7 linked regions of the Homo sapiens genome follow. The protein of the gene in region 7 purifies or fractionates together with the protein of the main gene of each other region. This does not show direct contact. Each region holds a gene or a part of one and is shown on either strand. Other genes may lie near its edges. The genes, in order: ADD1, CSNK1G2, BCL7B, LSM11, DENND1A, FAM120A and ATL2.

Region 1 (3,500 bases), on a different chromosome or scaffold from region 7:
GTGAGCCAAGATCGCACCACTGCACTCCAGCCTGGGCAAGAGAGTGAGATTCAGTCTCACAAAAAACAAAAAACAAAAAGATTTGCCTATTGAAGACATTTCACATAAGTAAAATCATGAAGCACATGGTCTCTTGTGTCTGGCTTCTTCCACTTAGCATGTTTTCAGAGTTCATCCATGTTGTACCAGGTATGAGTGCTTCAATCCTTTCTATTGCCAACTACTATTCCATCGTATGAACAGACCACATTTTGTTGATCCACTCATTAGCTGATGGACATCTGGGGTGTTTCACTTTTTGTCTGTTAAACATAATGCTGCTCTGAACATTCACACACAAGCTTTTGTACGGACATATGTTTTCACTTGGCCTTTGCATTCTCAAAGTGTTTTCACAACATTCTCTCTTTCATGTATTACATGGCTACTTAATTTTCCGATGGAGAAAAGTGAGGCTTGGGGCAGCTAAGTGACTTTCTCACCCACTCAACTACCCTCAGCAAACCACAGTAAACCCATAGTGAAGAGCCAGTACTCCTTTCATAATACCACACTGCCTATGGTTACGGCTCCCTCTCCTGTGAAATAAATTTCAAGCGACAGTGTGCAGATGAGGGAAAACATTTTTTAGGTAAGGAACTCCCTAAATCATTCTCAATACGTTAATCCACAAAGCAAATTTAAATTAAGCCCTTCAGAGTAAGAGAAGGAGAGAAGTGTTTGGGATGGGATATTCTAAAGGTCCCTCCCAAATGATGACTTTCTCCTCCCCATGCAAACAGCCACAGCTGCCATTCCAGGCTGCAGAGGCACACATGTAGTTACATCTACTGCGCCCCATTCCTGAGGCATGCCCTTTCCAGCAAATTTGAGATATACCTGTGGACTCTGTCCCCTAACGTCAGCCCCAGATGCCAGACTCCCTGGGCCCAAGGCCTAGATGCAGAGCTCGTCTGTTCTAATACAGATAACAGTATTTTGGAGGCATATATTGCTCAGATCAATTGTATGAACCCTCTTTCCCAACCTCATGAAGCACTGTCTAGGTTTATAATATTTCTGGTAATAAAGTTCAGAAAAAAACAATAATTATATTAATAATATAAGTCATTTGCTGACAGCTTAGTAGGTACCTTTTGGCATTTACTTCATTTAATCCTCACAATAACCATGTAAGATAGGGACTATTGTTACTTTAGTGTCCATACTTAATTATGTGGAGAAAATACACAGTTGGTAGGAGTATAAACCAACGTAACTTCTTAGGAGGATAATCTGGAAACATCTACGGAAAGTAAAAGTGTAATTACTCTTTGACATGGCAATCTCACTTCTGAGAATGTATCTATAGATATACTTCATAGGTGCCCAAAGATGGAAATGTAAGAATATTAATTGGGGCCAGGAGGGTAATTTGGAAATGTCTATGCAAATGAAAAGTGCAATTATTCTTTGACATAGCAATTTCATTTCTGAGAATGTATTTATAGATGTACCTCATAAGTGCCCAATATGGAGATGTAATATTAATTGGAGCACTGCTTATAACAGTAAAAACCTGGAAACAGGTCAGGTGCAGTGACTCATGCCTGTTATCCTAGCATATTCAGAGGCTGAGACAGGAGGATCACTTGAGACCAGGAATTCAAGACCAGCCTGAGCAACACAGCTCAGGCTTTTGAAACCTTATCTCAAAAAAAAAAAAAAATTAGCCAAGCCTGTTGGCATGAACCTGCAGTCTTAGCTACTTCAGAGTCAGAGGTGGGAGAATGGCTTAAGCCCAGGAGTTCAAGGCTGCGGCAAACTATGATCACATCACTATATTCCCGCCTAGGTGACAGAGCAAGAGTCTGTCTCAAAAAAAATAAATTAATTAAATAAATATATGCTCAACATGTTTAAGCTGACAGTTATCAAAAACAGTGTTACACATTAGTTATAACAACTGTTTAAAAAGGTACTTCTAGAAAAATTAAGCTCAAAAGGCAAACTGTATTAAATGTGCTTCCCCTCATTCCTTTAAACTCAAGGTTCCTCAATGTAGAAAGGCCAGAATAAGCATTAACAATTAAACAACTCTATTAAAGTTTAATATTATGCTATGTTAAGATTCCTATTTTTTTTTTTTTTTGAGACGGAGTCTCACTCTGTCCCAGGCTGGAATGCAATGGCACGATCTCAACTCACTGTAACCTCCGCCTCCTGGGTTCAAGTGATTCTCCCGCCTCAGCCTCTTGAGTACCTGGGATTACAGGCATCCACCACCAAGCCTGACTAATTTTTGTATTTTTAGTAGAGACAGGGTTTCATCATGCTGGCCAGGCTGGCCTCGAACTCCTGATCTCAGGTGATCCACCTGCCTCGGCCTCCCAAAGTGCTGGGATTACAGACGTGAGCCACCATGCCCAGCCTTGCCTCCCACTCTATTCAAAGTCATCCCTTTGCTCACTGAGATAGATGCATATCTGGTTGCCTCCTTAGGAAAGGCTTATCAGAAACTCAAAAGAAGGCAACCATTTGTCTCTCACCTACTTGTGACCTGGAAGCTCCCTCCCTGCTTCAAGCTGTCCCCGCCGTTCTGGACTGAACCAATGTACTTCTAGCATATATTGATTGATGTCTCATGTCTCCTTAAAATGTATAAAACCAAGCTGTGCCCAACCACCTTGGGCACATGTCAATCAGGACTTCTGGAGGCTGTGTCACAGGCACACATTCTCAACACTAGCAAAATAAACTTTCTAAGTTAACCGAGACCTGTCTCAAATTTTCGAGGTTCACGTGTTCATCTTGTTCTGAGACTGAAATGTGTACGGTGTGGGTTGAAACAGTGAGCAAGTAGAACCAAAATGTTTGGCTTAGAAGAAAAGTAGATACAGGTATATAAAAATGAGAAGGTTGAGTAGAATCCTAGTCTTACTTCCTTTTTTTTTTTGAGACGGAGTTTCGCTTTTGTTGCCCAGAATGGAGTGCAATGGCACTGCGACCTCCGCCTCCTGGGTTCAAGCGATTCTCCTGCCTCAGCCTCCCTAGTAGTGGGGATTACAGGCATGCACCACCATGCCCAGCTAATTTTTGTATTTTTAGTAGAGATGAGGTTTCACTGTTGTCCAGGCTGGTCTCAAACTCCTGACCTCAGGCGATCCACCTGCCTCAGCCTCCCAAAGTGCCGGGATTGTGAGCGACCGCACCTAGCTTGTTTTTTGTTTTTGTTTTTGTTTTTTTGAGACGGAGTCTCGCTCCGTGTCGCCCAGGCTACAGTGCAACGGAGCGATCTCCACTCACTGCAAGCTCCGCCTCCCGGGTTCACGCCATTCTCCTGCCTCAGCCTCCCGAGTAGCTGGGACTACAGGCATCCGCCACCACGCCCAGCTAATTTTTTGCGTTTTTAGTAGAGACGGGATTTCACCATGTTAGCCAGGATGGTCTCGATCTCCTGACCTCATGATCCGCCCGCCTCGGCCTCCCAAAGTGCTGGGATTACAGGTGTGAGCCACCAC
Region 2 (3,500 bases), on a different chromosome or scaffold from region 7:
GATCACGAGGTCAGGAGATCGAGACCACAGTGAAACCGCGTCTCTACTAAAAATACAAAAAATTAACCGGCCGTGGTGGCGGGCGCCTTTAGTCCCAGCTACTCAGGAGGCTGAGGCAGGAGAATGGCATGAACCCAGGAGGCGGAGGTTGCAGTGAGCCGAGATTGTGCCACTGCACTCCAGCCTGGGCGACAGAGCGAGACTCCGTTTCCAAAAAAAAAAAAAAGATCATTGTTTCCATCCCTGCTAGCACAACATCCAGCCTGTAGCCTGTGGATCAATGAATGAATGAATGACTCGGAAATCAAGATGACTCCTTGACATGTCATTCATTCATTTATTTATGCATGACAAGGTGTCCCACTGTCACCCAGGCTGGAGTGCAGTAGCACGATCTTGGCTCACTGCATCCTCCACCTCCCGGGTTGAAGCAATTGTCTTTCCTCAGCCTCCTGAGTAGCTGGGGCTACAGGTGCGTGCCACCATGCCCAGCTAATTTTTATATTTTTTCATAGGGGGTTTCACCATGTTCCTCAGGCTGGTCTTGAACTCCTGAGCTCAAAGCAGTCTGCCCGCCTCAGCCTCCCAAAGTGCTGGGACTACAGGCCTGAGCCACTGTGCCTGGCCAAGTCTTAGTGTTTTTGAGGCACGGTCTCACTGTGTCTCCCAGGCTGCAGTGGAGAAGCAGAATCACAGCTCACTTTAGCCTCCACCTCCCAGGCTCAAGCGATCCTCTCACCTCAGTCTCCTAAGTAGCTAGGACCACAGGTGCGCACCGCCATGACTGGCTAATTTTGTTTTTATTTTTGTAAAGATAGGGTCTCCCTGTGTTGCCCAGGCTGGTCTTGAACTCCCGGCCTCAAGCAGTCTGCCTGCGTCAGCCTCCCAAAGTGTCGGGGTTACAGGCAGGAGCCACCGCAGCCGCCCATGACTCTCATTATTGAGAAATACATTTGTAAGGCTCTAGGTGCCTGTAGGTGCCGTGGAGAGCAATTCCTCTGATGGAGCTGGGGAAATTGGGTAAATTGAAACCCCCGGAAAGGCTTTGCCGTTCTAGAGGCTGTGAAGGACACGCGTGATCCATGGGAGGAGGTAACATGTCAGGATGAGCGGAAGTTTGGAAGAAGTTGGTCCCAGGCCTGAAAGATCACTGTGAGGGTTCAGGACTTCAGTGGAGGAGGGACTGTAGAGGTTTTAGAAGCAGCAAGAGAACTAGAATGAGAAGGACTTGGAGATGTGACTGCATTGTCGCTGTCTCGCGAGAAAACTTTAACACGTGAGGAGTTGCCTCTGAAGGGTGAGCAGGGGAGTTGCTTCAGTTGCGCTCTAGTCCCAGTGAAGATTCTGTGAACCTGGGGGTAATGAGGACAAAGAACTTGGAACAGCCCGGAACCTCGGTTGATGAAGCCGCGGCCGGGTTGAGAGGACCGACTGCAGTTCTGAAAGACGTTCTGCTGTGGGTAATCAATGCTATCAGACAGCATCACGCCCCACAGAGAAATCTTTCATGAAAGGAAGAGTCCATCGCTGTGGCCAACTTTTTTGTGGTCATAGTTTAAGAAGTTGCCCCAGCCTCCAGCAGCCACCGCCCCAACGAGTCAGCCGCCGTCCACATTGAGGCAAGACCCTTCTCCGGGGAGATTAGGGCCACTCCCGGTTCCCATGATCATTACCATTGCTTAGCAGTAAAGTATTTTTATTTCTTTATTATTTATTTAAGATGGGGTCTTGCTGTATCCCCCAGGCTGGAGTGCAGTGGTGCGATCATAGCTCACTGCAGCCTCCGCCTCCTGGGCTCAAACGATCCTCCCGCCTCAGTCTCCCGAGTAGCTGGGACCACAGGCTTGCACACCACGCCCCGCTTAATTAAAGTGTGTCCTTTGATTAGACACAACGCTACTGCACACTTCCTAGACCACGGTATACTGTGAACGTAACTTGTGTGTGCACTGGGAAACCAGAACATTCGAGCGGCTGTTGCCGTGCGGAACCCAAGGCCTGTGATCCCCACAGGGTGTTTCTGGCACCGGAACGCAGGGGCCACATCCAGGGGGGCAGTGCTTGTGACGCCGGTGCCTTCGTTTCTGATGTGGCTTACTCAGCTGGGAGTTCCTGTCCTAACATTTTCGGCGATGGCTGTGCACCCACGGCCCCTCTTCACCCGCGGCCCCTACGTCCTGCCGGTTGGCAGGAAACCTCTTCCCCTGCACATCTGGGGCACAGCAGCAAACTGTGGTCCCCCTTCTTCAGTGAGGGTGGGGCTTCTGTCTGTCTGGAGCCCTAGAATGGGGCCAGGGGTGGCTGGGGCCTGGGTCAGGGAGGACCCGGCAGGATCTGTGCAGACAGGCAGGTGGCTGCGGTGGCTCCCGGTGCAGGGTTCTTGGCCTCCTGGGCGGGTACCTGGCTTGAGGGCGACGAGGTGACAGCCGCGTCCCTGGGGTTGCACCACCCGAGCGTCCAGTTAACACCACAGCTGCCACCCTTCAGTTCTGCAGGTGGGGCTCCTCCCTCCTCCCCAGGCTGCCCCCACCACCCTTCAGTTCTGCAGGTGGGGCTCCTCCTTCCTCCCTCCTCCCCAGGCTGCCCCCGACCACCCTTCAGTTCTGCAGGTGGGGCTCCTCCTTCCTCCCTCCTCCCCAGGCTGCCCCCGACCACCCTTCAGTTCTGCAGGTGGGGCTCCTCCCTCCTCCCTTCTCCCCAGGCTGCCCCCGACCACCCTTCAGTTCTGCAGGTGGGGCTCCTCCCTCCTCCCTTCTCCCCAGGCTGCCCCCGACCACCCTTCAGTTCTGCAGGTGGGGCTCCTCCCTCCTCCCCAGGCTGCCCCCGACCACCCTTCAGTTCTGCAGGTGGGGGCTCCTCCCTCCTCCCCAGGCTGCCCCCACCACCCTTCAGTTCTGCAGGTGGGGCTCCTCCCTCCTCCCTCCTCCCCAGGCTGCCCCCGACCACCCTTCAGTTCTGCAGGTGGGGCTCCTCCCCAGGCTGTCCCTGACCACCCTTCAGTTCTGCAGGTGGGGCTCCTCCCTCCTCCCTCCTCCCCAGGCTGCCCCAGACCACCCTTCAGTTCTGCAGGTGGGGCTCCTCCCTCCTCCCCAGGCTGCCCCCGACCACCCTTCAGTTCTGCAGGTGGGGGCTCCTCCCTCCTCCCCAGGCTGCCCCTGACCACCCTTCAGTTCTGCAGGTGGGGCTCCTCCCTCCTCCCTCCTCCCCAGGCTGTCCCGAGGCTCCTTGCTGGGGACCGTCCTGCCTCCCGTCGGGGCCTGCGCTGAGACTGGGCTCCATGCCAGCCGGGGCTGGCTGGCCCCCTCGCTCCAGAGAGCGACCTGCACAGAGTCCCCTCAGCCATGAGCCCCTGTCCAGACACGGCGTTTCTCTGTGGGTGGCAACAGGCTCTGGGGCCCTCAGCTCTGGGCTCGGGAGCATTTAAGGTGGTGCAGACTCAGCGAGGGGCTGTGGGCTGGGGTCCCACCATCCCGGGAGCAGGGACTGCGTGTTCCTTCTCA
Region 3 (3,500 bases), on a different chromosome or scaffold from region 7:
GAGTAGTCGGGACTACAGGTGTGCGCCACCATGCCCGGCTAATTTTTGTATTTTTAGTGAGGACAGGATTTCACCATATTGCCCAGGCTGGTCTCGAACTCCTGGGCTCAAGTGATCCACCCACCTCAGCCTTCTAAAGTGCTGGGGTTGCAGGTGTGAGCCACCGTGCCCGGCCCTATTATGTCATCATTTGCTGAACAGCATCAACAACTACAACAGCAGTTGCTTTTTTTTTGCTTTTTCGTGACTTCATATTTGGACTTGACTCTTTGAGAAGTTGGCTCAGATCTGTGACAAAGCAGTTCCCTGCATTTGACCCTTGTTCCTACTGACAGCAAGTACCTCTTAAGGTATTGGTGGACCTTAAAATAAGCAAATTTGTTCTCTGCCTGCACGCTTAGGGAATAACCTTCTTGGAATGAAGGAGAGGCTGGGCACGGTGGCTCACACCTGTAATCCCAGCACTTCGAGAGGCTGAGGCAAGAGGATCGCTTGAGCCCAGGAGTTCAAGATCAACCTGGGCAACATGGTGAAACCCTATCCTTACTAAAAATACAAAAAATTAACTGGGCGTGGTGGCCTGTAGTCCCAGCTACTTGGGAGGCTGAGATGGGAGATTCACCTGAGCCTGGGATTTTGAGGCCGCAAGGAGTGGTGATCACGCCACTGCACTCCAGCCTGGGTGACGGAGACCCTATCTCAAAAAAAAAAAAAAAAAAAGTCTCCTTTGTTCTATCTCCTCCACACATTTGTTTGCAGACCTCGAAGGCACTCTGTGGGTAAGCTCAGAACAGTGGCATTCTAATCTGGTGTAGATAGTTGGGGGTCCTTAGTCATTTAGAGAGTGACCTTGTGCAAGGCTTATCCCTTTGCTTATTTCGTGAGCGTAGTGGACTGATAAACTCTGCCATTTTTACCCCTTTGGAACACAGCAAGAGACAGGATTTCTACAAAGCTTTGAACTTCAAAGTTGAAATTTAAAAATTTCTTTAGACTAGTTTTCTTTCTTTTTTTTTTTGAGACGGAATCTCGCTCTGTCACCCAGGCTGGAGTGCATTGGCGCAATCTCGGCTCACTGCAACCTCTGCCTCTCAGGTTCAAGCAATTCTCCTGCCTCAGCCTCCTGAGTAGCTGGGACTACAGGTGCGTGCCACCACACCCAGCTAATTTTTTGTATTTTTAGTAGAGACAGGGTTTCACCGTATTAGCTAGGATGGTCTCGATCTCTTGACCTCGTGATCCGCCCACTTTGGCCTCCCAAAGTGCTGGGATTACAGGTGTGAGCCAGCGCGCCTGGCCTAGTTTTCTTTTTCTTTATGCAGTCTTAGTAACCCAGAAAGGGAAAGGTTCCTAACATTTCACACCCACCAGGCCATACCCCCCAGCAGCAGGTGTCTCTCCTGAGATTGTTTGCCCCTTGGAAGGGTCTTTAAATGGACACAGGAGGCCAGGTGTGGTGGCTCATGCCTGTAATCCCAGCATTTTGGGAGGCCAAGGTGGGCAGACTGCTTGAGACCAAGAGTTCAAGACCAGCGCGGGCAACAAAGAGAGACCCCCCACCCCCACCCCACCACCCCAACCATCTCTACAAAAAATAAAAATTTGGCTGGGCGTGGTGGTGTGCGCCTCTAGTCCCAGCTACTCAGGAGGCTGAGGTGGAAGGATTGCTTGAGCCCAGGAGGTCAAGGCTGCAGTGAGTTATGATTGTGCCACTTCACTCCAGCCTGGGAGGCAGAACGAGACCCTGTCTCACTAAAACAAACAAAGAAAAGGAATGTAGTAATAGAACTCATATATTTGGTAAAGAGAAAAGCACTCAAAGTAACTCGCATGCAAGTAAAAAAGAATATGGTGCTGTGTGTGCTACCTTCCAGCCTTATGTCCCACATCCTTTTTTTTTTCTTTCTTTCTTTTGAGACAGGGTCTCTGTTGCCCAGGCTGGAGTGTGGTGGCGTGATCTCAGTTTACTGCAACCTCTGCCACCTGGGCTCAAGGGATCCTCCCACCTTAGCCTCCGGAGTAGCTGGGATTACAGGCACACGCCACCACGCCCAGCTACTTTTTGTTTTTTTTTTGTAGCGACAGAGTTTCACCATGTTGGCCGGGATGGTCTCGAACTCCTGACCTCAAGCGATCTGCCCACCTCAGTCTCCCAAAGTGTTGGGTTTACAGGCGTGAGCCGCTGCGCCTGGCCTGTATTTTTTTTTTAGAGATGAGGTCTCGCTAAATTGCCCAGGCTGTTCTCAACCTCCTAGGCTTGAGTGATCCTCCTGCCTCAGCCTCTCAAAGTGCTGGGATTTCAGGTGTGAGCTACCATACCCCACCAAGAGGAAGTTCAGAAGGATTCCAGATTGAAGGAATGATCTGCTGAGTAGTAGAAAAACACAAGTGATGAACAGAAAACACATTGCATTGTTTTATCCGTTCTAAGAAGTGTCTTTCTTTTAGGGAGAAGAAGTGGGTGACTGTGGGTGACACGTCCCTGAGGATATTTAAGTGGGTTCCTGTGACAGACAGCAAGGAGGTAAGTGTGGAAGAAAATCAAAAGATACCATTTTCTTTATTTCTTTATTTGATTGCCTCTTTTTTTTTTTTTTTGGGACGGAGTCTCGCTGTGTCACCCAGGCTGGAGTGCAGTGGCATGATCTTGGCTCACTGCAACCTCCACCTCCTGGGTTCAAGCAGTTCTCTGCCTCAGCCTCCCAAGTAGCTGGGGTTACAGGCATCTGCCACCACACCCAGCTGATTTTTGTATTTTTAGTAGAGACGGGGTTTCACCATGTTGGTCAGGCTGGTCTTGAACTCCTGACCTCGTGACCCACCTGCCTCAGCCTCCCAAAGTGCTGGGATTACAGGCGTGAGCCACTGCACCCGGCCTAATTGCCTTTTAATTAAAGGAATTTATTTGCCCAGAATTGAGTGGAAAATACTTCAAGGTACCCTGTTATTGGTCCATGCAAGGCCTCTCTTTATTATTTTCCTACTTTATTCCTTTCCCTTAACCCAAGCCTCTTTTCCAGGGCTTGACAAACTACAGCCCTGGCGTATTCCTTAGGTTTGTCAGTATAGTTCTATTAGAACATAACTGGCTGGGCGTGGTGGCTCACGCCTGTAATCCCAGCACTTTGGGAGGCCAAGGTGGGCGGATCACTTGAGGTCGGGAGTTCGAGACCAGCCTGGCCAACATAGTGCAACCCCTGTCTCTACTAAAAATACAAAAAAAGTAGCTAGGCCTGCTGGCAGGCACCTGTAATCCCAGCTACTCAGGAGGCTGAGGCAAGGAGAATCGCTTGAACCTGTAAGGCAGAGGTTGCAGTGAGCCAAGATCCCGCCACTGCACTCCAGCCTGGGCAACAGTGTGACACACCATCTCGAAAATAAGCAAACAAACAAAAAAAACCAAACACATAAGTATGCCCACTGATTTCCTTATTGTCTGTGGTGCTTTTGAATTACAGTGGCAGATTGAGTGGTTGCCATAAGGCCAAATGGCCCGTAAA
Region 4 (3,500 bases), on a different chromosome or scaffold from region 7:
ATTAAAATACGAACCCAAAGCTATTCTGCTGGAGATTCTGTTTTGGTAGGTCTGGGATGAAGCCCAGGAACCTTTTGTTTCAACCAGAAGCCCCAGGTGATTCTGATGCAGGATGGCTTTAGATCCCACTTTGAGGAACATTACTGCTTCTTTACCCGCTTCAGTTTCTATGTCTTATGAAAGCAATTAACAGAGATTAACCAGGGTTACACACAGAATTGCTGGTGAGTTCTCATCACCGAGAGCAACCTCGACAGGACAGCTGTTAGGACCAAATGAGAAGTACAAGACAAATTCCTTTGAAAAGTGTAAATCACCCTACAAATAGAAGCTGACAGTACTGTTATAATCACCACTATCATCTAACACATTCTCTTCAATTCTTCAAAGGTAAAAAGATCATAATAAAACATTTTTCCCTGCATTTTGGAAATGAGAAAACTGAGGCTCAGAGAAATTATCTTGCTTACAGTCACACAGTTACCAAGTGATGATGCTAGGATTCAAATTCCCTAATGGTTAAAAACATGGTTTTAGGAGTTAGGCCGAGGAAAAAGTTTGGCACTTCCACTTACTAACAGTGTGATCTGCGACCAACATTCCAATCTCTCTAGAATCAATTTCTTCATTTGTGAAATGGAACAGTAATAGTACCCACAACTCATTCATTGAGATAATATATGAAGCCCTCAGTATAGTACCTGGCACATAGCAGGTACTCAATATATGTTAGCAGCTACTGTTCTTATCCAGGAGGATGCGTGGATGGGGATAAAGCACAGGGAAAAGGAAAGTTGGAGATAGAAGACCATATGGAAAAGAAACACCAGAAAGCTCTGGTGGTTCTTTTTTTTTTTTTTTTTTTTTTGACAGAGTCTCGCTCTGCCACCCAGGCTGGAGTGCAGTGGCATGATCTCGGCTCACTGCAACCTCCGCCTCCCAGCTTCAAGTGATTCTCCTCCCTCAGCCTCCTGAGTAGCTGGGATTACAAGCTTGTGCCACCATGTCTGGCTAATTTTGTATTTTTAGTAGAGATGGGGGTTTCCCTATGTTGGCCAGGCTGGTCTTGAACTCCTGGCCTCAGGCGATCCGCCTGCCTCGGCCTTCCAAAGTGCTGGGATTACAGGTGTGAACCACCGCGTGCAGCCTAGTAGTTCTTAACTACCTCAAATTATAGTTGTGCTATTACATATCCCTTCTCTCCTACAAATGTCTAGAAAAAAAGTAAGCCTCTAGAAGGCTAGGAAGTGTGGCACACTCCCTCATTATAAAACCACCATGTGGCCGGGCGCAGTGGCTCATGCCTGTAATCCCAGCACTTTGGGAGGCTGAGGCAGGCGGATTACCTGAGGTCTGGAGTTCAAGACCAGCCTGGCCAACATGGTGAAACCCTGTCTCTACTAAAAATACAAAAATCAGCTGGGCATGGTGGCAGGGGCCTGTAATCCCAGCTACTCAGGAGGCGGAGGTTGCAGTGAGCTGAGATTGTGCCACTGCACTCCAGCCTGGGTGACAAGAGCAAAACACTGTCTCAAAAAAAAAAAAAAAAGACATCATGCAAAATGCTTTGTTTACTGATGTCTGCTTCACCTCTATCCTTATTTACCTTCCCATGTACTGTAAAGTGCAAGTTCCTTTCTGAAACTTTTGCACCTAGCATGGGGTTCAGCCAAAATGGGAAGTCAATAAATGTTTTTCTTAATTAATGAAAGAATGGTTGGTAGAAAATCAACTAAAAATTACTAAACCGATAAAATAATTGGTCCTTAAGGCTGGGTTTCTCAACCCTGGCACTAAGGACTTTTCAGATTGGATAATTCTTTGTTGTTGAGGGACTATCTTGTGTGTTGTAGACTGTTTAGCTGCAACCCTGGCCTCTACCAATTAGATGCCAGTAGTACCCTCTCCTATAGTGGTGACAATAAAATGTCCCCAGACATTGATGAATGTTCCTGGGAGTGAAGGAAGAACAAAATTACCTTGGTTAAGAGCCACTGCCTTAAGGAGAAGGAAGCAATAAAAAGACCTTTTCTTGTTGTTGCCCAAAAGTATGCAAAAATTCTAGTTCTTCTAAGAAGTTATTTTTTGGGTTTTACTTAATGCAGTTACTCAGGTCCTTTAAATATTATAGAAGATATAATCTGTAGGAGGTTCTCCAGCCCCTTGAGAAAGGCTTAATTACCATATTCCAGAACTTGTCGAATGCAACAAGGAAGCCTGTACAGACGCCCCGAAGTCCCTTGAAAGTGCGGATGTGAACATTCACCTTCACCCCCTCACGGATACAGCGATGGAGTTCACCCAGAGGGCTGCCTTCGTGCACTGAAACAAGAGAAGAACAGTCAGGACAGTTTTAATATCTGCCCTCATTCCCAGAATTAAGCCACGACCACCCAACTTCGGCCAGCAACATGTGGCCCATGGTAGAGTGACAATCTCACTATTGGAACAGGAAGGTCCAATGGGCAACATGGCTCGTACGGCCAACACACACTGACACAAGACTAGATTCCAACAGAATGTGGATCATCCATATGTATGAATATCAGCCAAATGTTTCACTACCGGTATATCTCTTATTCCACGATGTCACTGATTTTAACATGCACTATCACTTAACTTTTGGGGTTGGCCGGGCGTGGTGGCTCACGTCTGTAATCCCAGCACTTTGGGATGCTGAGGTGGGCGGATCACCTGAGGTCAGGAGTTTGAGATCAGCCTGGCCAACATGGTGAAACCCCATCTCCACTAAAAATACAAAAATTAGCCAGGCATGGTGGCCCATGCCTGTAATCTCAGCTACTCAGGAGGCTGAGGCAGGAGAATGGCTTGAACCCAGGAGGTGGAAGTTGCAGTGAGCCGAGATCGCACCATTGCACTCCAGCCTGGGCAACAGAGCAAGACTCCATCTTGAGAAACACACACACACACGGGCACGCAAACATTAAATGTATACATTAACAGCGAGATCCTTCTCAATTCTGTGCCTTAAGACAATTCATGAATCACATATCCAGCTTGAGTCTTCCAAAAAAACAAAAACCTTGTTTACATGTTCAAAGGAAACAAACTGCACTCTGCCCTTAAACATGTACAATCCTGTCAGAAAGAAAGGCCTTTGACCCCACCAAAGCTACTCCATGCACAAGCTTTCTGGACTCACTGGTGTTTCTGGGAGGAAAAGCACTGGTTCTGGCCCAAGCCCTGACAGTGTAAAAGGCACCTGGCTGAGTATCTGGCTCCTATGACACTACTAATAAGCATCATGTGAAGAGAGCAGGATAATGACTCATAGGAAGAATATTGAGACTATAAATTTCAGCTTTTATTATGAAGGATTCTCAGAGCGTGGGAGGAAAGATGAATTTTATTTTTATTATTTCATGTTAACTCAGCTCTCACAATATGCTGGCTATGGTATATAAAACCTCCCAAAAGAAAGCCGTACACATTCTTTTTTCCTGAGACAGGGTCTCACTGTCACCCAGGCTGGAGTGCAG
Region 5 (3,500 bases), on a different chromosome or scaffold from region 7:
GAGCAGTGTTGGCTTATGATAGCTCTGCTCCAGTTTGTTTAAAGGATCCCATTGCCAAAATACACAAAAAGTTTGCTTTTTCTTGAGGCCTGTTGTATAGCACAACTAACGTATCTCTCTGCTTTGTGATGAGACCAAGAATTGGAATGTGACTTCCTTCCAGGCCTTCTTCCTCTAATGCCTATTCCCCTCTTCCCTTTCTCCGCCACAGTGCTGTCCTCCCTGTCCCCAAAGGAGAATGTAGAGAGACTTGGAGTGGTGGAATAAAAGTCTCTTTGAAGACCAAGCTCTCCATCGTTAGTGCTCAGAGTCAGCCACTTGAATTTTCATGACTTTTCTGGAAAACATGTTGGTGCTACTCCATCACTCTTTTCTTAGCCATTGTAGTCAACTTAGAGGGCATTGTACAGCAGATAGGAAGGTTGAAACAGAAGGTAAGACCTGGAGTATTGCTCTAGGAAAGTATGTTTGCATTGAGTTATTAAATCTGTGTAAGTTCCTGGCTGGAGTTCCGGTTGCAGTTGCAAAGGTCCAGCCTTTTTCCTGGCCCTAGGGAGAGCTAATCTCTGGGTTCGTAACATCCTTTTTGCTTAAAGGGGCTTTGTAGGGACATGGAAAGATAAACAAGGAAGAAAAATAAACAAAATGAAGTTGTTTTGTTCTCTACTTTTATTGGAATCCGTACCCATTCTTTCCGAGTATTCAGGACTTGAAAAGGAGCCAAATAAAGTAAGAAAAGATATGTTAAAATACATATATGTTCCTATAGAAAAGAGAGGTGACATTCCAAAAGTTCATTTGGACGTTGGTTATGACATTTAGAATGTGTTTCCCTCTTCAAGATACTGTTATGTACAAATCAGTAACTGTTGAGGGCAAGGGCATTCCAGATATAGGGAACTGTGTATGCAAAAGTCATGGGGAGATAAAAGGTAAAGCTGAAATACAGGATATAAGGATAAAGATTACAGGAGAGGAAGTTGATGAAGTAGGCATGTGCCAGTGGGATATGATGCCATTGAAGGGTTGAACTGGGGATGTACTATGATCAGATTTGGGTTTTTAGGTAGATTACCCTGGCAGCAGCAGTTTAGAACAGTGATATCTCTGGCTTTTACAAGATGACGCATTGGAACGTGAGAATATGTTAGAAATTGTATTTATTTTTATATCAACCTTCAAAGTTTGTATTTTTTAATGTATGTGTTAGTATAGTAAGGCATTATTATAATTTATGGATATTTATCAGATGTATGCTCACTTTTTTACTGATAGGAAGAATGCATGGAAAAAAATGGGAGGCCACTGGATTGTGGAACTGTGTAAATAGTTTTTACTGCTGAAGATCAAGGTCCAGAGCAAGGTTTTGGCAGTGTAAAGAAAAGGAATGACAGGCCGGGCGTGGTGGCTCATGCCTGTAATGCCAGCACTTTGGGAGGCCAAGGAGGGTGGATGGCTTGAGTCCAGGAAGTTGAGACCAGCATGGGCAACATGATGAAACTCTGTCTTTACAAAAAAATACAACAATTAGCCAGGTGTGGTGGCATGTATCTGTGGTCCCAGCTACTTGGGAGGCTGAGGTGGGAGGATCACTTGAGCTCCCACAGAGCTCAGGAGACGGAGGTTGCAGTGAGTCAAGATCACGCCACTGCATTCCAGCCTGGGTGACAGAGTGAGACCCTGTCTCAAAAAGAAAAAAGAAAAAAAAAAAAAAGGATGGCTTTGAGAGATTTTAAGTAGAAATGACAAGACTTGGTGACAAATTACACGTAAGAGGCAAAAGAAGAATCAAAGATGACTTGCCAAGGTTAGCAGAGTTATGTTACAAATGGAGTATTTGTGAGGTGAGGACTGGTTATATGTTTGCTTTTCTGAGGAAAAGTGAAAAGTTATAATTGGGATAAGGCATTTTAGTCTGCATTGAGAATGGAAGGAATCTTTGAGGGATCCATAGTGAATGTGTGTGCTTTATTGAATGAGTAAGACTTGAAGTGGGCTGGACTAAATTGCTGAAGGCAAATCTGTTCATGGTAGATTTAGAGAGGGGGAAAAGAAAAACCACCTTTTGAATTCACTTTAGCCACAGGAAAGGTTTGAGGGTGTTGCATTGATCTCGCATAGGCTGTATGAATAAATGGAAGGAAGGAAACCAATCTAGAGAAGATACTGTTTGACTCCACGCTGGCAGTTCTTGAACTCCGGGGTGTGAGAGGAGCCAGGGGTATGTGAGCATTGGAGTACTGAGTTCCCAGAACTATACATTCTCCCTCTGAGTTCTAAATTTCTGAGCTTCAGGTTAAAAAAATAATATTTATGGAAGGAAGCTAATAAATTAACCTACAGGGTTGTTGTGATAATTAAAAGAGATATTGTGCCTAGTTCTCAGTGGAGATATGACTGCTTATTAAATGGCAGCTATCATTAATATTGCTTGGAGAGGAGAAAACACAGTTGTCTGAACAACCTGGAGTTAAAAAACAAGTTAAAAAACAGCAAGTATGTTCCTTTTTATAGTATTACAGTTTTTTTTGGTTTTGTTTTTAAAAACCAAAGTATTTGCTTCCTTTCAGTAAGAATGTTAGGATGACGTGTAGTGTATTTCACTGAATTTGTTTGAAAGATTGAGATGCTGATATATACAAAGCACTATTGCTCTTGCTGGTTGGGAAGAAAGGAAGCCTATAGTCTACTAAGACAGGTAAGATGAGCGTGCAAACAATTAGAATTATAACATTTAAGAACACTTATGTCCCCAGCCAGGCCCGGTAGCTCACACCTGTAATCTCATCACTTTGGGAGGCTGAAGCAGGCAGATCATTTGAAGTCAGGAGTTCGAGATCAGTTGGGCCAACATGGCAAAACCCCATCTCTACTAAAAAAAAAAAAAAAAATTACAAAAATTAGCTGGGCATGGTGGCGCATGCCTGTAATCCCAGCTACTTGGGAGGCTGAGGTGTGAGAACTGCTTGAACCCGGGAAGGGGAGGTTGCAGTGAGCTGAGATTGCACCACTGTACTCTAGCTTGGGCAACAGAGCAAGACCCTGTCTTGAAGTAAAAAAACCACTTAATGTTCCCTTTATCATAAATATTGGAAATCTATTCAGTTTTATAAAAGATTTATACAAATAATTTATATTTATCTCTGTTTAACTGGTACTACTTTTCAGTCTTTTTAAAGTGTTTTTTTTGTGTGTGTGTGACAGAGCCTTGCTCTTGTCGCCCAGGCTGGAGTGCAGTGGCACGATCTTGGTTCACTGCAATTACTACCTCCTGGATTCAAGCTTCCTCTGCTTCAGCCTCCTGAGTAGCTGGGATTACAGGCACCTGCCACCATGTCCGGCTAATTTTTCGTACTTTTAGTAGAGACGGATTTCTCCAGTTTGGCCAGGCTGGTCTCAAACTCCTGACCTCAGGTGATCCGCCCGCCTCGGCCTCCCGAAGTGCTGGGATTACAGGCTTGAGCCACCATGCCCGGCCTTAAAGTGATTTTTTATTCTTT
Region 6 (3,500 bases), on a different chromosome or scaffold from region 7:
CTGGCCTGGTCTGAACTGCCTCAGCCCCCAGTGTCGGGATTGTAGTCATGAGCCACCGTAACCAGCCTTGATGAGATGTAATGTTCCTATTCTGCCTTCTTGAACTTTGCTCAGTCAGTACAAGTATTCTGTTCAAACTGATTAATTAAACCCAGGAACTGAATACATTTAGATAAAACTTGCTACTTGAGACTGGGGCACTGGGTAGATTCGAATGATGCCGTATCTCGTGATGTCTACCCTCTCACTATCCACATTCAGGGATGGAAAGGATTTGGGGAGTGAGGAATGTTTATAGAAGTTCAGCCCAGCTCCCTGCTGTAGAATGTTCTTGTATGAGCAGTCCAGCAGTCAGTAAAGCAACCCTTTTCATTGTTGAACTGCTCTCATTCTTAGAAAGTTCTTGTTTCTGTTGACTTGAAATTTGCTTCCGTGGTTTAATTTTTCCCGCTGTTCCGAATTCTTTCACGTGCCACGCAGGATGTGCCTGTTCACTGAGTTCATAATCTTACTTCTCATGGGCCTTGTACTTAGCCTTCTTCAAGCTGATCATGCCTCAGGTTTTGCCTCCTTCTGTCACCAGGCCTCCTCTTCTGGGCGCCGGCCTCTGGCTCTTCCCTTGGGGTCTGGCCAACACCGCAGGCTTTGGGCCAGCATCAGCTGCTCCCAGGCTCTTAGCTCTTGGGAGTTGCTCCTCCATCCTTTGCCTCCCTGGGCACTGACATTGCACCTGGTCTCAGTCCAGGCTTGGCCAGCCTGACCGGCTCTGTGGGGCCTCCTCTCCCTATAGGATGGCCAGACGCCGCGCCCTCCCACTGTGCTCCAAGGCCCCACCCTGCCTCTCTGGACACTGGATCTGTAGTGTAACGGGAACAGGTCACATGACAGTTTCCTTTCTATAACTTTTTATCTTCTGTAGACTATTGAGATTTAGTAAACATGTCTGTTTGCACATGCTTAAAATGGTTGGAATGTTTTGCCTTGTCTGTGTTTGCAAGCGATGAAAATTAAAGGTGGTAGGGATTATATTGATTTGTTTAATCTTGGACTCGACATCTTCAAAGCTATATTTTTTGGGTGATACTTGAAAATCATACAATGTCTGCCTGTTTATTTATTTATTTATGAGATGGAGTCTCATTCTGTCACCCAGGCCAGAGTGCAGTGGCACGATCTCTGCTGATTACAGCCTCTGCCTCCAGGGTTCAAGCGATTTTCAGCCTCTGCCTCCCGAGTAGCTGGGGTTATAGGCGCCTGCCACCATGCCTGGCTAATTTTTTTATTTTTAGTAGAGACGGGCTTTCGCCATGTTGGTCAGGCTGATCTTGAACTCCTGACCTCAAGTGATTCGCCTGCCTTGGCCTCCCAAAGTGGTGGGATTACAGGCATGAGCCACTGAACCAGGCCAGTTTTTTGTTTTGTTTTGTTTTTTGTTTTTTAAGACTTAACTTTGTTACTCTTTGTTTTGTTTAACATTTCAGGATCATATGCCAAGTAATAGAGGAACATTTGTTAGGTTGGGCTAGGAATGGGGACTGGGGTAAGGCCGACTGTAGTTCTAAGAAGAGGTTCCAGTTTAACACCATTTCTTTAAAGAATTTTACCGTATTTTAATTCAGAGCAAAAGCCACACAGCTGCATATAGGCGTAAGTGAGTCCTTTGAGGAAGTAGGTGACTGAGCTGTAACAAGTCAAGATCATACAGCCGAGGGATTGCAGTGCATGTCTCTTTTCATTCTGAAAGAACTTCTCACTATTTAAAAACTATTTTTAAAGTTACGAAATATTTTGAAATATAGTAAACTTTTTTGGCCTTTTTTTCTTCTTTTGCTTCTTGTCTTCAGTCTGCATATTTTTTTTTTTACCGAAAGCCCACCTCTCTAGTAAGTGTGAAAGGAAGAGAGTGAGAAACTGGTGGTGTGACCTCTACTCTGGAGCCCCGTGTCCCTTCTGAGAAAGATGCCTCTTGTTGTAGAGAGGACACACAGTGGTTCTGCTCAGCTGCACTTGGGCATGGAGAACAAGAACCGATATAGACGAAGGCCTGAATCCGCAGAGGGAGACCCTGGGTTAGGAGGCACTTCTGCAGCCTTCAGAAAATGCAGACAAATTAATTCACTTATTGGACTGCTTTAATAGAATAGTGGCTTGCTCTGTGGATTCACAGAGGATTATTTGAGGTCAATGATTGGAATGTGATTTTAGAAAATATTCTTTCCTTGGAATTCTTTGGTTTTATGCTGTAATGTAGTTTGTTTGTTTGCTTTAAAGGAAAGTTTGTGCTTTCAAGGAAGGTTTTAGGATGAAATGGCCAAAAATCAAAAAACAAAAATGATCATCTTCACTTGAATGCGGGTGCTACATGAGTCTAGCCTTAGATTTGTATTATTCCAAAGTTAGGTAAGTGAGGTCAGCCACAAGATATTATACACTAGACATTTTACATTGATTTAAATTATATGGTTGGAGCTTGAATAGATTTTATAATATTCTTTGGACCAAACCTGCCTATCAGAATCACCTGTGAACAGTTTTTTAAAATAATAGCGACTTTGATCGCACACGTGGAGGTGCAGATCTAGCCAACATACTGTTTTAGGAACAGCTCCTTGTATTGTCTGTGCCATGCGTGTGTGTGCGCCATGCATGCACGTGTGGGGTGTGTTTGTGTGCACTTCTGTGTGTATCTACGCCTGTGTGTGAGTGACCACTTGATCATGCACACACATCCCTTAGAGGCACGGACTTGTGGACTTATCGGTCAGTTAGGAATGTGTTGTGTGCACGTGTGTCTATGTGCGTGTTGCATGCAAGTGTGAGGTGTCTGTGACTACACACATGCCAGTCTCATTATTCCCAGCTTCTCATACTGCAGTTGTTTTTGTTTGGTACAAAGGTGGAAGCTCTGCCAAGGTTTTTTCTTGATGCGAGCCAGGATCGAAGGGCTATGGTGTTTAAAGCTTGCGAGCTGAAGGCCCTTGGAAGGCAGGAACCTCAGATAAATTGTAGTCTGTAAGATTCCTGGTCGTTCTCTGGGGGGAGTCAACAATGATCTGTGCTTCACTCCCAGCGTCTGTTGACCATGCTTGGCTCTCAGGAGGCCGGACCAAGGACAGCGTTTGCACTCCTGGTCTCACCACGCCCAGTGTTGGCTTAGGGAACCTCTTGTGAATGCAGCCATGGACATTTGCTTTTCAGAGAACGAGAGTGAAGGTTTGGGGAATGTTTCTGTCCTTACCTATATTGGCAGTAGGCAGTGTGAGAGGTGGTGGTTCTTGGGTTGTGTTCCCCTTGCCTGGTGTTTTCCTCTGATTTCATACTGCTATAAAGAACTGCCTGAGACTGGATAATTTATGAAGGAAAGAGGTTTAATTGACTCACAGTTCAGCATGGCTGGGGAGGCCTCAGGAAACTTAGCATCATGGCAGAAGTTGAAGGGGAAGCAAGGCACCTTCTTAACAAGGCAGCGGTAAGAAGTGTCGAGTGAAGGGGGAAGAGCC
Region 7 (3,820 bases):
AGCTCAATTCCTCGGTCTAACTTCCAGCAAAATGTAAATCTGAAAGACAGGAGTTCCTAGGATCTAAGACTTCAGTAGAGAAGGTAAGGGAGCAATTCTCTGTGCTGCCTGGGAAACCCCCAATCTAGCTTTGACAGGAACCAATAACTGGAAGACTCCCCAAAGTCGCATTCTCTTTATGGCAGAGGCTCCCAACAGAATCCAAGTACAATAGTCATTTGATGAGTAATCTCTGGCCAAGTGAGAAGATGGCTACCAGATGCACAGCAACTCAAGCTAATTTTCATCCTCACTCCACGACTATCACACGAATGGAAAAAACCTGAGATGCGCAGATCCATTCTGGTCAAGTTAGAGGAAAGGAGGGAATCCAGGACATGAATGTTTAGGCTAAAGCTTAAAAGTGTGAAATGGACTTAAATCCTGTAGAGAATTGTCTTCTTTGAGTAAAGCACTCTTTTCTGACAAGAAATGTAAGAAAGCCAATGGTCTAGATTTTATAACTTTTTAAAAGTAAGCTGTCTTTAATTTCAGAAAATCTGCTATTATACAACAAATTATTTTTTCATTCATAAAAAACAGTCCACAGCATTCATAAAACAGGGTGGCAGAAGAAATAAAAAGACACTTTTCAGGTGGATTCTTTAAGAACAGATAAGTTAGCAATTTAATACAGATGAAAACAAATACAATCCATATAAAAACAGAATCTGAATGGGAGTGGGAGCGAAGATGTATCAACCAAAGTAAATTCAGAGTTTTCACACATGCAACTCAACACCTGCATTCTCTTCGCTTAAAAAGCAAACTAAGGGCCGGGCGCGGTGGCTCACGCCTGTAATCCCAACACTTTGGGAGGCCAAGGCAGGCGGATCACAAGGTCAGGCGATTGAGACCATCCTGGCTAAAACGGTGAAACCCCATCTCTACTTAAAATAGAAAACATTAGCCGGGAATGGTGGCACGCACCTGTAGTCCCAGCTACTCAGGAGGCTGAGGCGGGAGAATCACTTGAACCCAGGAGGTGGAGGTTGCAGTGAGCCAAGATCGCACCACTGCACTCCAGCCTGGGTGACAGAGAGAGACTCCGTCTCAAAAAAGAAACAAACAAAACTAGGTACTTTAATCGGTGTTCACAAAGAAGACCACAAAAGTACTGAAAAAATGCTAGCCTTACATATACCACCAAAAAAAAAAAAAGAGAGAGAAAGAAATTAACAATCCCCATCTACAACTAGGCTAATCATAGGTTTTCCCTTATAGAGACAGACACAGAAAAGTAACTTTTTACAAGCTTAGTTTTGAGGTACAATGCCTTAGAGCTCTCAACTGGGGTGTTTCCTGCTCATGCTCTTTTCACTATAAACAAATGTGGTTTATGAAGTGGAATACATACTTGAAAAATTCCTTAAAAAAGAATCACAAGTTTCATTTTATATATACAACAAATTTTTAATTATGTACTGAAAATAAATTACAGGAAATAACTTTAAAATGCAACAGAGGACAAAGTCACAATAAACATTCCCATTGAATTCCCTTGGTGGGCGGGGGGGGGGTGAGATTGCAGTGCTCAAGATAAATATCACAAATATATCAAAAACTTCAAATTGTCTATGCATTCACACACTGACATGAGCCACAAACATTCCTTTCACAGGGACAGTACTTATTTAGCCTACCACAGGACCAGATTTTGCCATAAACTACAAAACTTTTAATACAAAATCGTATTTATATATTTATAAGTCATATACATGCCCTATCTGTGATTTTAGAAAATAAAAGCTACACACTGTACAGACACTCTTAACTCATAGCTGTAGGCAACATTTTTGGATGGAATTTCTTCCCCAATAAAATTAATGGCATATTTTATATACATGAAGGCTAAACTGCAAAAAGACAGTTCAGTTTCCCAGATATGCATCTCCTTTTAGGGCAAGTTTATAAATTTAAAAAGGCAAGACAAATGTACACCTCAGAATTACTTTCTTAGCTACAAGAGTTGCCATGTAATTTCTGTGAAGTTTCTGATACATGCATTGATGTAATACTGGTATTGAAGGCAGTAAAGCAATATATACTTTTAATGTAGTGGCTCAATAAAGGCTTCATTGTCTTTCCAATCTGGTTCTTGAAACAGTGATTCATAAATTCTCTAAAAATTAAAATTTCAATGGGACACTGTGTTAAAGAGACTCTAAATAGATTTCTGAAAATATTTCCCTGAAATATCCTTTTACATAAGACAAATTCACTAACATTAGATTAAGTAAAAAGAAATAAAAGAGTTAAACATGGCACAAAGGTGCATGATTAACCAATGCTCCTCAGTCCATCTGCATGTCTTAGGAGCCATTAAAAGAATGCTTAAAACTAACAAACAATCTTCACACTCTGTGGCAGCCATCTGTGAAGCCAGTTACACTAAACTACTTCTACAGTTGATTGTAAACTTTGGTTTATTTTTATTTGAGTTCTCATTGTACAGCAAGCATGAAAAAAAAAGAGAGTGGAGTCCGTGAGGAGATGAACTGTCAGTCTGTCTTTAATCTGGCATGATGAGACACCTGGTCAGTCAGGCCTGCTTTGATAGAGTTTGTTACAGACTGCCTTATGTTTTCCTCCATCAAATTATCACCCAGGGGCTTCAATACCTGTGGTATGAGAAATGTGCAAAACAAACAAAAACATGAGGTAAAAAAAGAGTTACATATAAAAATAGATATAAAAATTCAATTCAAAGCAATGATGAAAATAACCAGGAATATGGGAAATAAAAAGATGCTTCTCTCAAAAAAACTTATGATGCTACTAGACATTTTATAATGCAACAAAAATTACTTTCCTCTTATTCAAACCATTTACAATTCCTATGAGATGGATGTGCAATTCCATACCCTATATGCAGCATCAAATCTGGTATGTATACAGCATTTATGCAGACCGGCCCAGACGGTCCTGCTTATTGTCCTACATGTGTAAGTGTGAACACTTCAGATAGAGAAAAAGGTTAAAAATACTGTCTAATTTTTCTTCTTGTTATTGTTGGATGACAGTCTCTGTCGCTGTGCTGATGAAAGAGCACGGTGAACCATTCGACGTCTAGTAACTTCAAACAGTTTGGAAAACACCTAAAACATGAAGTGATTTGTTAGGAGAATGAATCAGAGTGCCTCGAAGCTAAAGAGTTTAAGACTACAAGAATTTGAGACTGTAGGTTTCTCACCTTCCTGGGACTCCTCTGAAGCAAAAGAAAAGAGAAATGCAAAGAAATTTAGACAAGGTTTGTTGACACAGCACAGATCTCTGACTAGCTGATTACCTTACCTAAACTATACTGAAAATGATTTTATACACTTTAGATTCTTCCATTTAATTGTTTTGTAATAATGGTACCTCCAAAATCCTAGAATCAATGCTGTTTAAGAGATGAATATTTCTCAAAAGAAGATATTGTACAATTATTGAAAATTATATTGCAGAAAATGATCCAAAATTTTAAAATAGCTAATTTTTTCTTAAAAGTGAAGTTGCGATAGCTTTGCATCCATCTTCTATTAGAAGATATCAAAGAAACATCAAGTAGTGAGATTGAGATAAAAATTTAAATAGAATAAATATCCAAACATAAACTTCCCAATCGGATCTGAATAGAGCATTTCTCTAAAGAGTAAACACAAAATCCAAATTAATATAGTGGGTCACTTTATAAAATAACATCATTACAAGAAAAGTCAATATCCAATCAACTTTCTTCAAAAAAAATGGTCTGCTTCTTCGGTCTTCAAGTTTATAGCCAAAACAAACATGGACC

The links.
Region 1: the proteins of ATL2 (region 7) and ADD1 purify together in Homo sapiens (affinity purification with mass spectrometry; one large-scale study listed by BioGRID and IntAct). This does not show direct contact.
Region 2: the proteins of ATL2 (region 7) and CSNK1G2 purify together in Homo sapiens (affinity purification with mass spectrometry; one large-scale study listed by BioGRID and IntAct). This does not show direct contact.
Region 3: the proteins of ATL2 (region 7) and BCL7B purify together in Homo sapiens (affinity purification with mass spectrometry; one large-scale study listed by BioGRID and IntAct). This does not show direct contact.
Region 4: the proteins of ATL2 (region 7) and LSM11 purify together in Homo sapiens (affinity purification with mass spectrometry; one large-scale study listed by BioGRID and IntAct). This does not show direct contact.
Region 5: the proteins of ATL2 (region 7) and DENND1A purify together in Homo sapiens (affinity purification with mass spectrometry; one large-scale study listed by BioGRID and IntAct). This does not show direct contact.
Region 6: the proteins of ATL2 (region 7) and FAM120A purify together in Homo sapiens (affinity purification with mass spectrometry; one large-scale study listed by BioGRID and IntAct). This does not show direct contact.

What each region holds. Positions count from the first base shown.
Region 1 is NC_000004.12:2,846,844-2,850,343, reverse strand, and holds part of ADD1 (alpha-adducin), read right to left. Parts: intron 1-3,500. UniProt on the Homo sapiens protein: Membrane-cytoskeleton-associated protein that promotes the assembly of the spectrin-actin network. Binds to calmodulin.
Region 2 is NC_000019.10:1,965,172-1,968,671, forward strand, and holds part of CSNK1G2 (casein kinase I), read left to right. Parts: intron 1-3,500. UniProt on the Homo sapiens protein: Serine/threonine-protein kinase. Casein kinases are operationally defined by their preferential utilization of acidic proteins such as caseins as substrates. It can phosphorylate a large number of proteins. Participates in Wnt signaling.
Region 3 is NC_000007.14:73,551,191-73,554,690, reverse strand, and holds part of BCL7B (B-cell CLL/lymphoma 7 protein family member B), read left to right. Parts: intron 1-1,021; coding exon of another isoform or gene 1,022-1,143; intron 1,144-2,448; coding exon 2,449-2,524; intron 2,525-3,500. UniProt on the Homo sapiens protein: Positive regulator of apoptosis. Plays a role in the Wnt signaling pathway, negatively regulating the expression of Wnt signaling components CTNNB1 and HMGA1.
Region 4 is NC_000005.10:157,750,212-157,753,711, reverse strand, and holds part of LSM11 (U7 snRNA-associated Sm-like protein LSm11), read right to left. Parts: intron 2,323-3,500; coding exon 2,183-2,322; intron 1-2,182. UniProt on the Homo sapiens protein: Component of the U7 snRNP complex that is involved in the histone 3'-end pre-mRNA processing. Increases U7 snRNA levels but not histone 3'-end pre-mRNA processing activity, when overexpressed. Required for cell cycle progression from G1 to S phases.
Region 5 is NC_000009.12:123,920,127-123,923,626, reverse strand, and holds part of DENND1A (DENN domain-containing protein 1A), read left to right. Parts: intron 1-3,500. UniProt on the Homo sapiens protein: Guanine nucleotide exchange factor (GEF) regulating clathrin-mediated endocytosis through RAB35 activation. Promotes the exchange of GDP to GTP, converting inactive GDP-bound RAB35 into its active GTP-bound form.
Region 6 is NC_000009.12:93,510,685-93,514,184, forward strand, and holds part of FAM120A (constitutive coactivator of PPAR-gamma-like protein 1), read left to right. Parts: intron 1-3,500. UniProt on the Homo sapiens protein: Component of the oxidative stress-induced survival signaling. May regulate the activation of SRC family protein kinases. May act as a scaffolding protein enabling SRC family protein kinases to phosphorylate and activate PI3-kinase.
Region 7 is NC_000002.12:38,293,454-38,297,273, forward strand, and holds the end of ATL2 (atlastin-2), read right to left. Parts: intron 3,248-3,820; coding exon of another isoform or gene 3,233-3,247; intron 3,138-3,232; coding exon of another isoform or gene 3,030-3,137; exon of another isoform or gene 2,661-3,029; coding exon 2,541-2,660; 3' UTR 501-2,540; downstream 1-500. UniProt on the Homo sapiens protein: Atlastin-2 (ATL2) is a membrane-anchored GTPase that mediates the GTP-dependent fusion of endoplasmic reticulum (ER) membranes, maintaining the continuous ER network. It facilitates the formation of three-way junctions where ER tubules intersect.